2 separate regions of the Homo sapiens genome follow, and region 2 is linked to region 1. The links come from fine-mapping of genetic effects on plasma protein levels. A gene starts in region 1. The other region holds a variant in brackets. All regions are shown on one strand. Distances are between the middles of the regions. Region 1 holds the start of MDGA1 (MAM domain containing glycosylphosphatidylinositol anchor 1). Region 2 overlaps MDGA1 (MAM domain containing glycosylphosphatidylinositol anchor 1).

Region 1 (8,324 bases):
CTTAAAGGTCATGACTGAAATGTTAGTGGGGTCCTTCTGGGTACCTTCTCTGACAGTTCAGCTCTTACATTTCCTACTCCTTTCCCTAGCTTTAGTGTTCTCCTTCATACCCTGTACTATCCAAATACCGTATTTTCCCCATTTGTGTAGTCTATTGTCTGTCTCTTCGCTAGACTATAGCCTCCATGAAGGCAGGGATTCTTGTCTGATTTATTTACATTGAGTCTGCTGTGCCTAGGGCAGTGCCTGGCACATAGTAAGCACTCATTAAATATTTGTTAAATGAATGAATGGTGAACATATAGACAAGGTCCCTGCTCCCATGCAGCCTGCATTCTACCAACAGAAGGTCTGCTGGGGGTGTGGGATGAGGAGGGGGGTGGTGTGGGCTACAAACCGTGAGTGACATGCATCTTCAGGGCCCCTTTTCTCCACGGGTATCATGGTGGGATTGCATTCTCACCAGTCTTGAGCCACCACAGTTTATAATAGGAGTTAACTGCCTGCTAATTAGCAGCTGAAGCCATTAATTGGCTATTTGTTAGAGCCCGAATTAATAAACTGGTCTTTCAGCGGGGTCATAACTCTCCCGTTCCTCACCCCTCCCAGTCATCCTTCCCCCACATGACCAGAAAGCGTCTTGCAATGAGATTGAATCAATACCTGCCACTGTATGATTTTCAGAGACAATTTCTCTCACAAGGCGACAACACCATCTAGCAAAGACTCTTCCTCTCTCTCTCTTTCTTTCTCTCCTCTTCCAGGCTGTCACTCGCCGGAGGCGAGCTAGTGGCAGGAGGAGATGGGAGAGCTTTCTAGTAACATGCTCTCACAACAAACCGCAGTTGCCCTGCTTGCTCAATGCCTGGAGCCCCTGGTTCCCTGGCCCCTGGCTTGTGGTCAGCAACGAGTTCCTGAAACCTCCTGGGGCCCAAGTGCTAGGTTTTCTTTGAGGCAAATATATATATATATATATATATATATATATATATATATACACACACACATATATATATATATATTTTTTTTTCTAGTGGGAAGTGACCTAGAATGATCTTGAGTGGAACCGAAGACTTGGCAGCTGGGTGCTGACCACCAAGCCTCCAGATAGCCTGACCTCAGGCTCATCCTGTGCCCTATGGCCCATGTCAGGTCTAGCAGTCTAGCTCTCATGTCCCCCCTGCCCTTGGTGCAATTTGGGGGCCAGAGTATTGTTCTCTGTGTCTGTAAAGGGAACAGGAAACAGTTCTTGTGGAAACATTATTTGATACCTAGGCCCTTGCCCCTCTTCAGTATAGAACAGTGGGAGAGGGCAAGGTCGCCGAGCCAAGCTACTGAGGTCAAAGCTCAGTTTGGCCCCTTAGCAGCTGAGTGAGTCACTACATCTTCCTATGTCATTCCATGAGAATAACAGCCCTGTCTTACATAATGGTTATGAAGATTAAATAGTTAATACAGTGCCTGGCATGTGGTGTCAGCTGTTATTCTTATTACTCCACTTCTCTCTAGGAAGACAGGGATCTTACCTAGTTTACATCTGGGGAAACTGAGGCCTAGAGAGGTTAGGACTGGGACGCAGGACTGATGTCTAGGGCTCTTTCCCTTCTCTGAGGTTGCCTCCCATTGTCAGACACTGGGCTGTGTTGAGGCAGCAGGCAGGGCACACTTGGGGGAGGAGACAGCTGAATTTACAGACACACACAAACAGGCTGTCAAGGTATTTACACTGCATACAATTAGCTGCAGAGTATTCACAAGTGGATTAGCTACAGCAAATGTTCAATCCCAGCCTGGCTAACTTGGTCCTCTGTTCCCCCCACCCCGCCATCATGAACCTTCTTTCTCCTCCAGGCTAGTGTGTGAGTTTAGAGAGGGCAAAGTCAAGAGAATGTCAGCTGAGTCAGTGCAGTTCTCTGTCCCCAGTAACTCACCCCAAAGCCAAAGAGGAGCAATTGACTGCTGTTTGGTGTTGGAACAGCTAATTGGAAAATCAGAGCGCAGTTTCGCACGACATGGAGAAGTACACATTCAGCTCAGAATGGGCAAAGCCAGGAAGAGCCACAGTCGCTGTGATCACTCCCTGAGAGCTTCCTGGAAGGGGTAGAGACTTCCAGGAACCCTCTAATAATGGGAAGAGGATGACAATAGAAGAAGCTATCCCTCATCACTCCCTCAATTGGCACCACTTCCTTTTCTGACTGGATGGGGGAGGCGGGAAGAGGCATGGTGGCTGTGTATCTCTGTGGGACAGAAAATGAATTTTTTGCCTTTGAGGTAACAGTCCGGGGCTGGGGAGTGAAAGGATGGCTACCCTGAGGGTATCCCAGGTCTGTGATATCTGGCCATGATGGGCATCATTCGTGAATTCACTGAACATGTCTGCAGCTGGCATCTGCTGGGAGCACCGCACTGAGTCTGGACTTCCTATCAGCCTTGGACCCACGGGGTAGAAAGGAGAGAAAAGACGGAAGAGGGCACAAGGGAGGCGCAAACGAGTGGAGGTGGGCTAGAGAATAGGAATCTTCGGATGTTCTCGGGCTTCCTGAGATGGACAGAAAGGGGGCTGAGAAAGGAAGGTGGAACCCCCCCATGCCACCAGGCACTTCCCGACACCTCCCGCTCCTCTTCCAGCAGTCAGGAGCGCGCGCTCCGGTGGGGCTTAAGCCCTGGAGAGTCAAGGGAGGAGAGACCCAGCAGGAAATGGGCCTGGGGAAGGGACGGTTCATTATTATTATTTTAAAAAAATTTATGTTTCAATTTATATGCAGACTAACCTTTTTGGAGTGTGGAGATCTTTGAGTTTTGACAAATGCATAGAGCCGTGGAACCACCATCAAGATATTGAGCAGTTCCAGGGGGCGAAGGGAGGGGGGGTTCGTAGTCTCCCCGCTTGTTAGCTGCTGCGATTGTCTGCGCTCCCACGGGCCGACCTAAAACAATTCTTGCGCACACGCTGAGATAAATAACGGCGACAGGTGGAGCAGGTGAGATTAGCAGGACCCGGGTTGGGCGCGGGGCGGGATCGGAGGCGCGGGGGAGGCCACCAGCCTCGCTTGCCAGCCTACGCCCCTCCCCGCGGGCGTTTGGGAGGAGCGTTCTCCGCACTCCTGCTCCGCGAGGGCCCCTTCGAGGCGGCTGAGACCCGAGTGCCGGACTCCCGCCGCTGGAGCGGGGCTCGGGTTCGGCAGCCGGAAGGAGGTGTGCCCCCGGGGCGCTTGGGGGCGCCTGAGGTCCCGAGGGGAGGCAAGATGGGAAGAGTGGCTAGCCGAGGAAAATGTGGGGTGACTTAGGGAAGCTCTGGCGGAGGGGTCGTGCGAGCAAACCTGTTGGCAACCTGTGGGCCGCGGCAAGGGCAGGAGCTCTCAGCGCGACCTCTCCGCCAGCTGCTCCGGCCCGGCCCCAGCACCAGACGCCTGGAAAGGGGCGGGGGCCTCTCGAGCCGGGCAGACAGCCTTGCAGACCCACAGCCGCGGCCCGTCTCGCGCGGCTGCAGGACCCCAGGAACCGCAGGCGCCCGGCCTTTCCCTAGGACCCCCGCTTCAGTCCCGCCTCCCCAAAGTGCAAAACATTTACGAAGTGTGCAGTGCCCTGCGGGCATGGGTCTCCGAAGCGAGCGGCCGTGTTTGCCCCGCGGGCTGCTGGCAACGGTGCACCCGGCTCGGCCAGCTAGTCTGGGTGTGCAAGGCTGGAGAACAGCGAGTGTGCGAGCGCGCGGCTGCAGAGCCCCCGCCGAAACCCAGGTCCCTCCGCCACTGTCCTCGGGATAGATGGATCCATTTCTGCTTTCTGACATTTTCCTGCTGGGCGGGGTTGGGGGGGAATGTTAGGGGGCGGAGAGAGGAAGAGAGAGAGAGGGAGAGGAGAAAGGGAAAGAGAGGAGAGGAGAGGAAGGGAGAGAGAGCGAGAGGGAGAGAGAGAGGAGAGAGAGAAGAGAGAGAGAGGAGAGAGAGAGAAAGAGAGAGAGAGAGAGAGAGAGAGAGAGAGAGAGAGAGAGAGAGAGAGAGAAAGAGAAAGAGAAAGAGAAAGAGAAAGGCAGGCAGTCAGCTTCCCCCAGCCCTGTTTTGTTTTCTCTAATTGGTCCTGGGGGAGGCGAGGAAATTGGACAGAGGCTGGGCCAGGCGAGCTGGGCTGCCTTTAATTGGCTCCTTTTTTTAACTGGAGGGGAATCAAACAGGAGAGCGAGCGACAACGGGTGGGAGAGCGAGAGACCGAACGAGGAGACGCGAGGAGGAGGGAGGAGGAAGAGAGGGAGGGAGGCGGGAGGAGCGCGGAATGAAAAGCTCGGAGGGGCGAAAAAGCAGCACAGCAAAGCCCAAGTTGCTGAGCGAGCGGAGCGCTCCCGCGGCCCGGAGCCGAGCGGCCGCCGCGCCCCGGAGCCCGGCCCGGCCCCGCCCGCTCTGGGCCCCCGCAGGCCAAGGCCGCCGGGCGGGGGCGGGGACGACCAACTTGGGGCGCGGCGTAGCCCCGCTCTCCCGAGAGCTCGGAGCCCGGGAGGGCTACGGCCGCGGCCAGACGGCGGGAGAGGAGCGCGGCGAGCGGAGGCGGCGAGCGGCGCCCGCGCCGCAGCCCCGGCCTGGGCGAGAGCGCGAATATTTTTCAAAAGACTCAAACTTTCCTCCTTTCCCCGTTTTCTGGGGCCCTTCTTGCCTGGAATTGCTCTCCAGATTCCCGCGGGGCGCCGGGCTGCTATTCTTCCCCCGGGTTTATCGGCGGCTCGGCTAACTTCACGGACCCGGGGACCCGCGGCGCTCGTCCCTCGGCCGAACCCAGCCCGCGCTGCTCCCCGGATCAGGAGGGCCGGGCCCGGGGCTGCTTCGCCGCCGCGAGTGCTTTCAGCCCGGCCCCCTGGAGTCGGGCCGCTGAGCCCACGGCAGCGGCCGCAGGACTGGAAACAGCAGATTGATTAACTCGAGCGGAGCCCCGGCCTCCCCGACTCCGCTCCGCTGAGGGGCGGCCCCAGTGCGGGGAAACGACAAGTTTGTCAGTCGTCCGTGGCCTGTTGGATCGAAGCGCCGCCTCCGCCGCCGAGAGGTCCCCGGCGCCTAGCATCCCGCGCGGACGGCCCTGGGTACCCGGGGCGGCTCGGCGGCCGGGCTCCTCGGGTCGGGGCGCTGGCTGCTGTGCCGGGCGCGCCGAGGCACCCGGGGCTGGGCCAGCGCCCCCTGCGTCCCCACGCGGGCAGCGGCCCCGCCGGAGGAGAAACACGGGTCGCCGCCACCTCCGCCTCTTCAGTCTCCTGGTCTTCGTCGCCGCTCTCTCTCTCACCTCTCAGGGAAAGGGGGGGACATAGGGGCGTCGCGGGGCCCCGGCGAATGCGCCCCCCGCCGCCTCTCGGGCTGCGCCGCCTCGCGGGGATGAAGCACCGGCCGTGAAGATGGAGGTGACCTGCCTTCTACTTCTGGCGCTGATCCCCTTCCACTGCCGGGGACAAGGAGTCTACGGTAAGAGCCCGCGTCCCGCTCCACCTTGGCTTAACCTCGCGCGGAAACTTTGCAAGAGGCGCAAAGTGCGCGCTGCCGGGGTTTGGTGGAGACCTCGACTCGGACTCTGGAGTGGATGCCCGCGTCCCCGCCCTCTCCAGGGCGCGTGGAGACCGAGCTAGCTGCTTCGGAACACAGGGGCCGGTCGTAGGGTCTGGTGGGAAGCCGGGATGTCAGGAGGAGGCACCCACTTTCCCACACCCTGCTAGAGGTGGGAATGATTAGGAACCCTTGAGAGCACCCGGTCGGCTCGGGAGACCCGGACAGACCCAGTCTAGGACTGGTGCAGCGACTTGCACCGAAACCTCGTCCTGGCTCGGCCTCCGGAGTGGAAGCCAAGCGATGCATGAGCCGGAGTTGCCGCGCGGCTTGCGGGCGAGCCGGCTGTCAGCACCAAGGCCGGGCGGCGGGCTCGCCTTCCCCGCTGTTGCTGCGGCTTCGCTTCTTCTACTCAGGGCTTGACACCCTGATCAGGATGCCGGCATCCCCTGGCCCTGGCGCCTTCGACCCCGGCATCCCTTTTCGGACCTTCCCTGAACCAGTTCTTCCTGTCCCCGGTTCTTGGCTACAAACCCCAACCCCACCTTCCTTCCTGCGCGCACACACAGATACATTCAGCCACCATCCCCAGAAAACGCAAACACGGCACGCACCCACCGGGATACGTGTCCAAACTCTGCCTCCTGCCACGCAGCCTTGCTCCTGCGTCCGCACGCCTCGCTGTGGTTACCAAGGGAGACTCTGGTTACCCCTTCCCCCTTCCATCCTGTGGGTTTTCCCAGGGAAGGCCCGGGGCAGGCATCATCCATTCAGTCACCTGGGCTCAGCCTCCCGCAGTGCCTTAACCCCACAGCACAAAAAATCATTCTCAGGGGCCCAGTGGCCCTTACTTTGCTTTCTCTTTACTGCAGGATGGTTTGTCCAGGTCCCTTTTTAGTGATGTGTGGCTGGGGCGGGCAGGATTCTCTCTTTCCTTTTCTGTTGGGTGGAGGGACTAATGATTCCTCTTTTAGATCCAGGGGAGGTTGACCTGTTCTTTGTGGGGTAGTATAGGCACTGACTACTGGTTGCCAGCCTCAGGTGCTGAGGCTAAAGCACCCTGGAGGGTGCTGACCCATCTGCCTGTGCCTGGCAAGAAGAAGGGGTGTCCTGAAGGGTGTCTGAGAGGTGACATGCTCCTGGCCCTGCCCAGCTAGCTGGCTTGGCCTTAATTCTCTGGTAAGACTAGCCCAGGCATCTGGCCAAACTCTGCTTCTTAATTAGTTTGTGTGTCTCTTACTGCCTGGCCCCTCACAGAGGCCAGGAAAGGCAGGAAAGAATGCAGCAGGGACTGGGAGAGGCTGGGTTTGGGGCGAGGAGGCCACGGGGCAGGTACTGGAGGCCTTGGCCTCTCCAGGGCAGATGAAGATGCCAGTGGACTGGGGTTTCACTTTCTTCTTTCTCCCCAGGTCAAGGTGCCTAAGAGAGGTGCTGCTGAGGTCTTTGCCTTCTCACCACAGCCCCGGGGCTGGGGAGGGTGATGGAGAGCCCTTCCTGCATGCTGCTGTCCTCCACTCTACCCTCCTTCCCTGTGTCATTGGGTGCATTTGGCAAGACCCACTCCTGGTCATCCCTGTCCTCCATCCCCTCCAGCTTCTCCAGCCTTCTCTAGGCTGCTTGGGGCTCATCTTTGGGAGGTTCCTCTGTTCCTAGTCTAGTAAACCCAGCAATGAGAGTGGGGTTTGGAGTCAGGGGCAGTGGTCTCTGTGGACCCTCATTTCAGAGTACTCTAGGGCCAGGATTCAGCCATAGGCTTATCTATACCCTTTTCTCTCTGTGTTTTCTCCCCTCCCGCCTGTGCCTAGGTCCCATTTGCTCTCACTCAGAGCCAATCAAAGTGGGCTGGGTGTGCTGGGGCCGACCCTGGGCCCTTGGGTGACATGCCACTTTTCCTTTGAGAGCTTGGCTTCAGGCAGTGTTGGGGCTTCAGGGAAATTGCTGGGTAAAAAGTCTTTATTGAGGTGGATGAAGGCAGAAGATTTAGGAGGAGGAGGAGGAGGATGACAGGAGGTCGCTGAGTTCCTTGTGATGCTAGAATCTTTGGCCAGATACAGCAGAAGGGAGGATCTCTGTAGGACCAGGACTGGCTTAAGAAGTAGGTCGAAGATCTGGGACTAGTTCTTCTGCCCCCCTCCCCAGCAGTCTTTCTGTACCCGCGAAGCAGAAGAAACAGCATGAGAGTGAAGGCGGCACATAGGGACCAGGGATGGCCACTCCAGCCTGGCATTGCATCCAGCATCCAGCATGGTCCCCGGCACAACAGCAGGAGCTAGGCAGGTATTTGTTGAATGAAGAAAGGGCTATAGTTGGGGGCAGGTTGGAAATTCTTTCTCCATGAGAAGTCTCTCTAGGACTTGGTTTCCAGCAGGGCAGTGGGGGCATTGTTTAAGGGTCTCTGCTTAGGGCGAGTCACAGAGTCCTATCCTGCAGCCCTAGAAGAGAGAAGAGGCTGGAAGCCTAGTATTGCCCTGGCACTGGGGAGGGAGGCAGCAGGTCTAATTCAAGACATAGGAGAAAAATGTATATCCTGGGGAGGAATCCCCTGCCCCTGCCCCTCTGCCCCCAGACCTGTGTGGATAAGGGAGGGGCTGAACAGAGGGGAGGAAGACGAGCAGGCGGTGGAGAGCGAACCTGACGGCATTCGGCCTAGGCTGTGTGTCTCTGCTGAGGCTGGTAGGAGGTAGGTGCCTAGAACCCTATGTCCTGCTTCCCACTGAGGTCCACCACCTGCCCTAGGATCCATGGTCTGCAATAGGGCTGGGGAGGCAGCACTCTCAGTTTGGCCAGGTGGCTTTGTTCTTTGGG
Region 2 (8,324 bases), 25 kb after region 1:
AGGTTTGGTTGCTTTTCCTTTTTTTTTTTTTTTTTCTGTTGAGATGGAGTTTTGCTCTTTTTGCCCAGGCTGGAGTGCAATGGCACAATCTCAGCTCACTGCAACCTCTGCCTCCCGGCTTCAAGCAATTCTCCTGCCTCAGCCTCCCGAGTAGCTGGGATTACAGGCACAAGCCACCACCCCCAGCTAATTTTGTATTTTTAGTAGAGTTGGGGTTTCACCATGTTGGCCAGGCTGGTCTTGAACTCCTGACCTCCAGTAATCTACCAGCCTTGCCTCCCAAAGTGCTGGGATTACAAGCATGAGCCATCATGCTGGGCCAGGTTTGGTTGCTTTTCTACTGCACTCTGTGGAAAGGACTCCCCTGCCACCTACCTCCATCCATGCTTATGTGAGGGCTCAGGGTCCCCAGATGCCCACTGCAGCCCAAATCCAGTGCCTTAGCCTCATTTTCTCCCTTTGGCCCCTACATTCAGGCCTGTGCCAGAACCCCAAGCTGAGCCTACTTGAGAGTTGGGGTTTAGCTCTGTGGGCCTTGGAGAGAGCCATGTTCCATCCCTTTGCCTCACTGGGCTTTTTGATCAGGTGGTGCTTTGGGGGCTCCTTGCTTTAGCAAAGCCACTGCCATCCCCACTTCCTGGCCCAGGCTCTGCCTTCTGGTTTGGAGGCCTGGATCTGGCAGTGTGTCTCCGGTCCTACCCTGGTGGTGCCCTATCCCTAGCGACTGTGCCACAGACTCCTAGAGACTGGGGCCTATCAGGATTCACCCTGGAACAGGAGGACCTTCTCAGAGCAGACACACTCATGAGTCTGGTTTTATGTCAGCCCCTTCTAACTGTACTTCTAGCGTATCTACTAGGCAGCATGCACTATGCGCAGGGCATTCCATTCTCAGTGGGTCTCACATTCACAATAGGGAGCCCTGTTATGTCCATTCTCTAGTTAGGAAGCTGAGGCTGTAGACTAGATGGGTAAATGATTTGCCTCAAGTCACCCAGAAATTACTGTTTCCGTGGGCTTGGTTCAATAGGTATGCTTTGACAGGTGCAGGCTTGTCAGATCTAGACCCTGGGCTGCTGCCAGGGACCAGTGCCAAGTGAACCACAGTGATGGGGTCTCCAAGACCAGCAGAGCTTGGTGGGGCTAGAACTTTCCTTTCTGGGATCCAGGCAAGGAAATTTTACATGAGTAACAATGAGTAACCCTGTGTCCATGGGTCCCACATCACTGGGCCAGGAAGGCTCAGACCTTGGGATCCTAGGAGTCATTCTCTGCCCTGATGGGTGGAAGCTTCTCTTTTCCATCATCTTACATATTCTCACAGGGAGAGCTTTTCCTCCCAGTGATTATTACTACTTTCAGCCCACCTTAATGTTCTGATCTCTCAGGATTACAAACTCCTGGAAATCCTTCAAAGTAGACCTCATTCGGTTTCACATTTTTTTCTTGCAAGACTTTGGAATAGGTTCCCAAAGCATCCTGGGCTATATTATTAAGTGGAAATGGAACTGAAATTTATTAAGTACCTGCTGAGTACAAGTCACTGTGTGATGTACCCGATGTGCATTGTCTCATCGAATCCTCACAACAACCCAAAAGTTATCTCCATTGAAGCCTGAGATGTAGTACTATCCCCATTTTGCAGATGAAGAAACTGAGGCTAAAGGAGGTTAAACAACTTTCCCAAGGTCACTTGGTCACTGAGTAAAAGGTAGCGCACTCCTCCCTACCCCTCACCCTATGCCGTTGAGCAGCCCTCTCAGATTTGCATTTAAAGCCTCTGATCAAGCAGTGCCCAACTTGTCCTGCCTTTACTGATTGGAGATGACCTGTGTCCCCTCATCATTAACAGTTTTTTGTTGTTGCTGTTTTTGCTTTTTTGAGATGTAGTCTCTCTCTGTCGCCCAGGCTGGAGTGCAATGGCACGATCTCGGCCCACTGCAACCTCCACCTCCCAGGTTCAAGTGATTCTCCCGCCTCAGCCTCCCAAGTAGCTGGGATTACAGGCGCCTGCCACCACACTCAGCTAATTTTTTGTATTTTTAGTAGAGACGAGGTTTCACCATGTTGGCCAGGCTGGTTTCGAACTCCTGATCTCTAATGATCCGCCTGCCTCAGCCTCCCAAAGTGCTAGGATTACAGGTGTGAGCCGCCGTGCCCAGCAATCATTAGCAGTTTTAATCCTGGCATCCTGGGACCCACCAGGAGAAAGTCCCTTTATAGTTTTCATCAGGAGACCTAAAAGTCCTCATTAAAGGGCTTTCCTGGTGGCCTGTCCAGACACCCTCTAGTTCTATAAGTGGGTGTGCAGATTAGACTTCCATTGATAGACAGTGAAGATTCTATGAGCATCACCTGCCACTTTCAATACCTGTGTGCCTTCCAATGAGACCAGGATGTGGGCGCAGTGGTGCTGAACATCCCCAGGGAATGGGACATAATGGACCAGCCGCCACTTGCAGCAGAGGAGAGTTGTAAGGGTGCCAGCCTCTCCCAGAAGCTCCAGGCGCCACAGTGGCAGGCTCTGCAAATGGAACAAGGCCCTGCAAACTGTAGCAGGCTTGCATCTGACTATGAAAGCAGACCTTGTTTTTGCATTCAATTGTGGTGGCGGGGTGGCGGCCTGCACACTGATCCTTTCAGCTGTGGCTGGTTGCTGTATTCAGTGACAGCGCCCTTGTACCCGGAGGTCAGAGACACATGCACTCTGGTTAGGGAGAGATTTTTGCAGCCAAAGGGAAGGTTGGCTGAATATGGGTTTGGTTTTGATGAGCAGAAAAGGCCCTGTGTCGGGGAACAGGCTTTAATATGGTTTGCAGCAGGGAGAGGGCAGAGGTTCTTTGCCCAGAAGGGCTATGCCTCATTTGGCTCTGTGTCCCAGCACTGAGGGCAGGAGATTTCACATAATAGGTGCTCAGAAAATGTTACAGAGCCAATTAATGAATCAATGGCAAATTAAAAGGTGATTGTGTGTGCCCTTTGAGGGACTGGGAGGACAGGGAGCGAGAGGGAGGATGGGAAGGAAATGGACTCGAACATGAGTCTAATGATCGGAGAGAGAATGACCAGAACTGGATGGGCCAAAAGTCTGTTGCTGCTTTCCCTCAAGATGCTCTGCGTTCAGGCAAGGCTGGAGGAGATGGTGTGAGTGGGTTTGGGCTGTTTCAAGTCGGCTTTCCTAGCACAGAACTGGAGCCTCCCCCAGCCTCAGAGCACCTCCGAGAAGTCACCTGGTCCACCCCCGGCTGGTGGTGAACAGAGGACAGGCTCCAGCCAGCTCTGCAGAGAGCGGGGCTGTGGTAAGGGCAGAGCAACTCCCGATGCAGTGAGCACAGAAGGGCAGGGCTAATTTTCCCAAGAGGCCCACGCTTGATGGCTCACAGTCTGTAGAGAGGCTTGGAACATCATCCCTGGCAGAAGGAGGCCCAGGCGGAGCAGGCCAGGTGCCTGCCCAGGAAAGCCTCCTCCCAGGCCCCCGACCGCCATTCTCTGAGCAGCTAATTAAAAGAGAAAAGCCTGTTAATATTTCAGCACTATTAACTCCACTAAATTATTAAGTGTTCATTTGCATTACATGCATAAAAGGATCAATAAACACTTGCATACCAGGATCTGGGAGGGCGAGAGGTGTCACGGCGAGGGAGGGACGGTTTCTGAGGATGCTGCACAGCATCGGTCCCACCAGGAATGTGGAGGCTCCGTGCTGAGCTGTGAGCCCTGCACTGGGCTAGGCACTTGCGAAGTGGAAATGCATGGCGGTTAGCATGAAAGACGGAGAGTCAGACAGACTCCAGACCAATGGGGTGTCCTTGGGTAACTTATATAACCTCGCTGAACCTCAGCTTCCTCATCTGAAAAGTCCGAACCATAGTAGGCTTGTTAGGAGCAATAAATATGATAAAAGATATAAAGCACTGAATATATTGCTGGCAGAGTAAATGTCAATAAAGGGTAGCTATTGCAGTTAATGTTATATTATGGGGATGGGGGGTGGGGGGAGACCTGAGACAGCACTAGTCTCTAGTTCACAGCAATC[CCT/T]CCCTGCTCCCTCTCTGCCTCTCAGTGGGCCTTTATAAGCATCGTTCTTATTCAGCTTTTCTAGCTACTGCTTCCCTAGTGCAGAGCCTGAGTGCCACAGCTCTCTGTTACCTCAGAACCAAGCTTAGCACCTCATACTGATAAGGGCTTGTTGAATGACTGTCTGATGGAAGCCAGGACCAGAACACAGATCCCAATTCTGTACCACTCCATCCAGAACACTCAGTGATGCTTCTGGGAGGTGGCTGGGGTGGTGGCACCTGCTCTGTCATCTGTGGGCAGATAGAACCAACTCTGGGCGGGGAATTTTGCAGCCACTCCTTCTCCTTTTGTCTCCTTGCCCCTTCCTCACCCTGTTCTTTGGTCATTTCCCAGCCTGCAGACTCTTTCCCTGAAGGAGCCAGAAGCAGGAAGAGGGCAACAGTCCTCTTCATTGATTATTGGCTGAGCTTTTGTTTTTTTGATAGGGGTCTTGCTCTGTCGCCCAGGCTGGAGTGCAGTGTGCAATCATGGCTCACTGCAGCCTCGATCTCCTGAGCTCAAGCAATCCTCCCTCTTAGCTAGGATTACAGGCATGTGGCACCATGCCCAGCTCATTAAAATTTTTTTTTTTTAGAGATGGGGTCTTGCTATGATGCCCAGGCTGGTCTTGAACCCCTAGCCTCAGGCAATTCTCCTGCCTCAGCTTCCCAAAATGTTGGGATTACAAGCATGAGGCACTGTGCCCGGCCTGAAGGAACTTTTTTTTTTTCTTTTTTTTAGATGGAGTCTCACTCTGTCACCCAGGTTGGAGTGCAGTGATATGATCTCAGCTCACTGCAGTCTCCACCTCCTGAGCTCAAGCCATTCTCCCACCTCAGCCTCCCGAGTAACTGGGAACACAGGTGTGCACCACCATGCTGGCTAAGTTTTTATATTTTTGGTAGAGATGGGGTTTCACCATGTTGCCCAGGCTGGTCTCGAACTCCTGAGCTCAAGTGATCCTCCTACGTTGGCCTCCCAAAGTGCTGGGATTATAGGCCTGAAGGTGCTTTTAATCAAGGTTTTCCATTTGTCTTGCTGTCTGTCTTGTTTGGCCCTCACCCTAGTGTTGTATCCACATGCATTTTATAGCACCCCTACCTGTGGCTATAGCAGCTGGGCATGGATTCTCTTATGGGGGATGGGGGTCTTTGATGAAATTCCCCCATTACAGTGAGAATTCTCTTTGGACCCTTAGTTGGCAGGTTGGAGTTTGTCTTAGTCTGACTCCCTGAGAGTTTGTGGCTTCCTCACTGGGCCTACTGGGTGCTGGAAGCCCCTACCCATAACTATACATTTTGGGTGTATAATTTTTGGGGAGGAAAAGAGTAAGCTGATAGGCCAGCAGCATTCTGCCTCGGCTGTGCTCATTAGGATGCTGCCCCAAGGGTGACATGTCTCAGGCCACTTGGCTGTTCTTAACTAAGGGACTGGGGAGGGGCATGTTAACCCCTCAGCTGTCAGTTTTGTATTAAGCTTTTCTCCACTAATTTTACAGAACATTGCTGTCTCTCAGGATGTTGTGCTCTGCGAAGAAGGGGGTTTATGGCCAATACGTTTAGAAAGCACTGAGTTAAACCAAGTTACACAGATGTGTTTACTGCAGGACTTTTCAGAGCCTTCAATAATATACTTTGTGTGCTAAGTCTTTCTCAGAGAGGGCGAGAGAAAGAACATGCAGCATCCTTAATTGACAGTGAAAATCGTCTGTGATGGACTATCAGTGAACACTCTGTGGCACACAGGTTGGCAGAGGCTGTTTTCCTTTTCCATGGGGTTTTGTTGATAGAAATCAGGAGAGTAAAATAGGAAAGTGTCATAGACCAGAGGCAAGGAAGCACACTTGGTTCTGAAATGCTGTTCAGTTTTCTATCCACTAATATGGTGTCAAGCAAAGATGATCAAATCCAGCCATGCCTCTGAAATTCCTGGGGACAATGAACAGAGTCCCAAGTTAGCAGGTGGAAGGCCTGGGTTTGAGTCTCGGCTGTGCTGCTGTCTCAGTGAGTGACTTGGACAAGACGGTTCCTCTTCCAGGCATTGGTCTCCTTCTCTGCCAATGGAGCTAAATATGACTTTCCCTTTCTGCTTCGCAGAACTGAGGCAAGGAGCTTGGAAATATACAGTGGACCCCAGGAAGGTACCAACCCTCATCATCTGTGACAGAGAAGGCAGGGTCCTTTCATGCAAACGGCTTGCAGGCTGCAGGGGATGTGAATTCTTGAGAGGAGTGCAGGATCATTTATAGAATAATAATGCTGGCTGACATTTTTAGATTGCATACTGCGTACCAGGCACTGTTTTAAACACTTTACATGAGTTTCTTTATTTATTCCTCACAACAACCCCATTTTGCAAATGAGAAAACTAAGGCTTAAGTAACTTGCTGAAAGCCACACAGCCAAGTGCACTAGTACCATGAGAAGGGGGATGCTCGGGGAAGGGCTCCAGCCCTTCCCACTTTCCATCCCCTCTGAAGCCCTGCACAGCCCTCAGCATGAATTTTGAACATGTTCATGAAACATCCCTACCCGTTTAATGTCTGCTTTGAGCATTTCCACCCCTGGGTTGCATGTGTACGGGTGCATAGCAGGTGGTCCCCTTTCTCTATCTCTTGCTCCTATTTCATCATCTTGGGAGCTGTCATTTATGGAGACAGCACATACTATTTGGTCAGGTGTTTTACATATATTGCATTAGCCCCTCATTAGCAGCCCTGGGAGAAGGCATCATTGTTCTTATTTTATAAATGAAGAGGCTGAGGCTCAGAGAGGTTAAGTAATTTGCTCAGCATCACACAGCATCACCCAGCTAGTGGGTAGCAGAGCCAGGAATGGGCCCCAGATTGTGTGACTCCACAGCTGTGCTGTTTCCATCTCTCTAAAGCAGACCTTTCCTCTCCCCATGGTTCCTTATCACATCTCCCTGTTTTCGAGTCATCATAGCATTTAACACTCTGAAATCACCCTGTCCATTTCTGTTTCCTTTTTTGCTATCCATCTCCCCAGCAATGCTCTTTGAGAGCCATCTCTTGTTTGCTTTTCATGACAGTATCTCCAGTGCCCAGCACAGTGCCTGGCCCAGAAGCATTTATTGTTCGACAGATTGAGTGAAAGGATCGTGTCATGGTGTATCTTGAAACAGCCCTGCCTGGGTTGCCTTCCGAATCAGGAGATGCTGCTGCAGGCAGTGCCTTCCTAGGGTATGTGGAGCTGGATGGAGGCTGAGGTTCAGTGGGGCAGGGACCCTTTGGGGTTCAGGGTCAGAAACATGGTTCTGGCCATTCCAAGGGTGACCTGAGCCAATGGGAGGCTGACTCATGTTAAAGAAACTCAGTGGGGGGTGATGAGCAAATTGAAAAGCCAAGGCCAAGGGGCACTAGGTAATGTACTACTAGTGAGGACTCATTTCAGAAGGAAAACTGTACCTGGAACCAAATCAGCAATGGGAAGTGCCTCATCAAGTAACAGTGAGAATAAAGGGAGTTGGGTAACTATAATAGTAAATGGGTTATCCTGGATAATCTCAATGGTTAATATCATCCCAGGACAGTGGATGCTGTTTTCTAAAAACTGAGGTGTAATTTAGAAGGTATAATATGGTGAAGTCCAAAGCAGATACCTTGATGTGTTTTTGTGTATCCAGACACTGTGCAAACACCACTCAGATCAAAATGTCCAACATTTCCATCTCACCAGATGGGATCTCTTCTTCTCCCCAAGAAAGTTCTCTTGGCCAGGTGTAGTGGCTCATGCCTGTAATCCCAGCACTTTGGGAGGCCGAGGAGGGTGGATCACGAGGTCAGGAGTTCGAGACCAGCCTGGCCAACACGGTGAAAACCCGTCTCTACTAAAAATACAAAAATTACCTGGGCGTGGTGGCAGACACCTGTAATCCCAGCTACTCGGGAGGCTGAGGCAGGAGAATTGCTTGAACCCAGGAGGCAGAGGTTGCAGTGAACTGAGATCGTGCCACTGTACTCCAGCCTGGGCGACAGAGCTAGACTCCGTCTCAAAAAAGAAAGAGAGAGAGAGAGAGAAAGAGAGAAAAAGTTAGTTCTCTTGTGCCCTTCCCAGCAAATAATCTCCCACCCCACCCAAGGGCAATCGGTGTTAGGCCTCTGTTACCCTAAGATTAGTTCTTCCAGTTTTAAGTTTTGAATAAATGAAATCACACACTATTCTTTTTATTTTCTGTCTTTAGCATTACAGTTCACTGTATGTTTGTGTCTGGGTTCTTTCACTCAAATTGCGCCTGTGAGATTC

Evidence for each region. A credible set is the group of variants that fine-mapping cannot tell apart. PIP is the posterior inclusion probability: the model's chance that the variant is causal. Protein levels are from antibody-based Olink assays in UK Biobank. Linkage for the fine-mapping came from a reference panel and not from the study's own genotypes, which makes the PIPs less certain.
Region 2: its variant is the best candidate, but not a certain one, in a credible set for the plasma level of the MDGA1 protein (UK Biobank, PIP 0.55).

The regions. Positions count from the first base shown.
Region 1 is chr6:37,693,862-37,702,185 of GRCh38, reverse strand. It overlaps MDGA1 (MAM domain containing glycosylphosphatidylinositol anchor 1), which reads left to right and starts at 4,303. Exons shown (of 17, transcript NM_153487.4): 1 at 4,303-5,441. The coding sequence starts at 5,375. RefSeq lists silencers at 3,192-3,261, 3,282-3,351, 4,218-4,347, 4,368-4,437, 4,498-4,627 and 3 more and enhancers at 4,950-5,679, 5,680-6,409.
Region 2 is chr6:37,668,614-37,676,937 of GRCh38, reverse strand. All of the region lies in intron 1 of MDGA1 (MAM domain containing glycosylphosphatidylinositol anchor 1), which reads left to right. Among named protein-coding and RNA genes, the nearest start is that of MDGA1, 25 kb to the left of the region's middle. The variant CCT/T (reference allele first, on the strand shown) is at 4,037.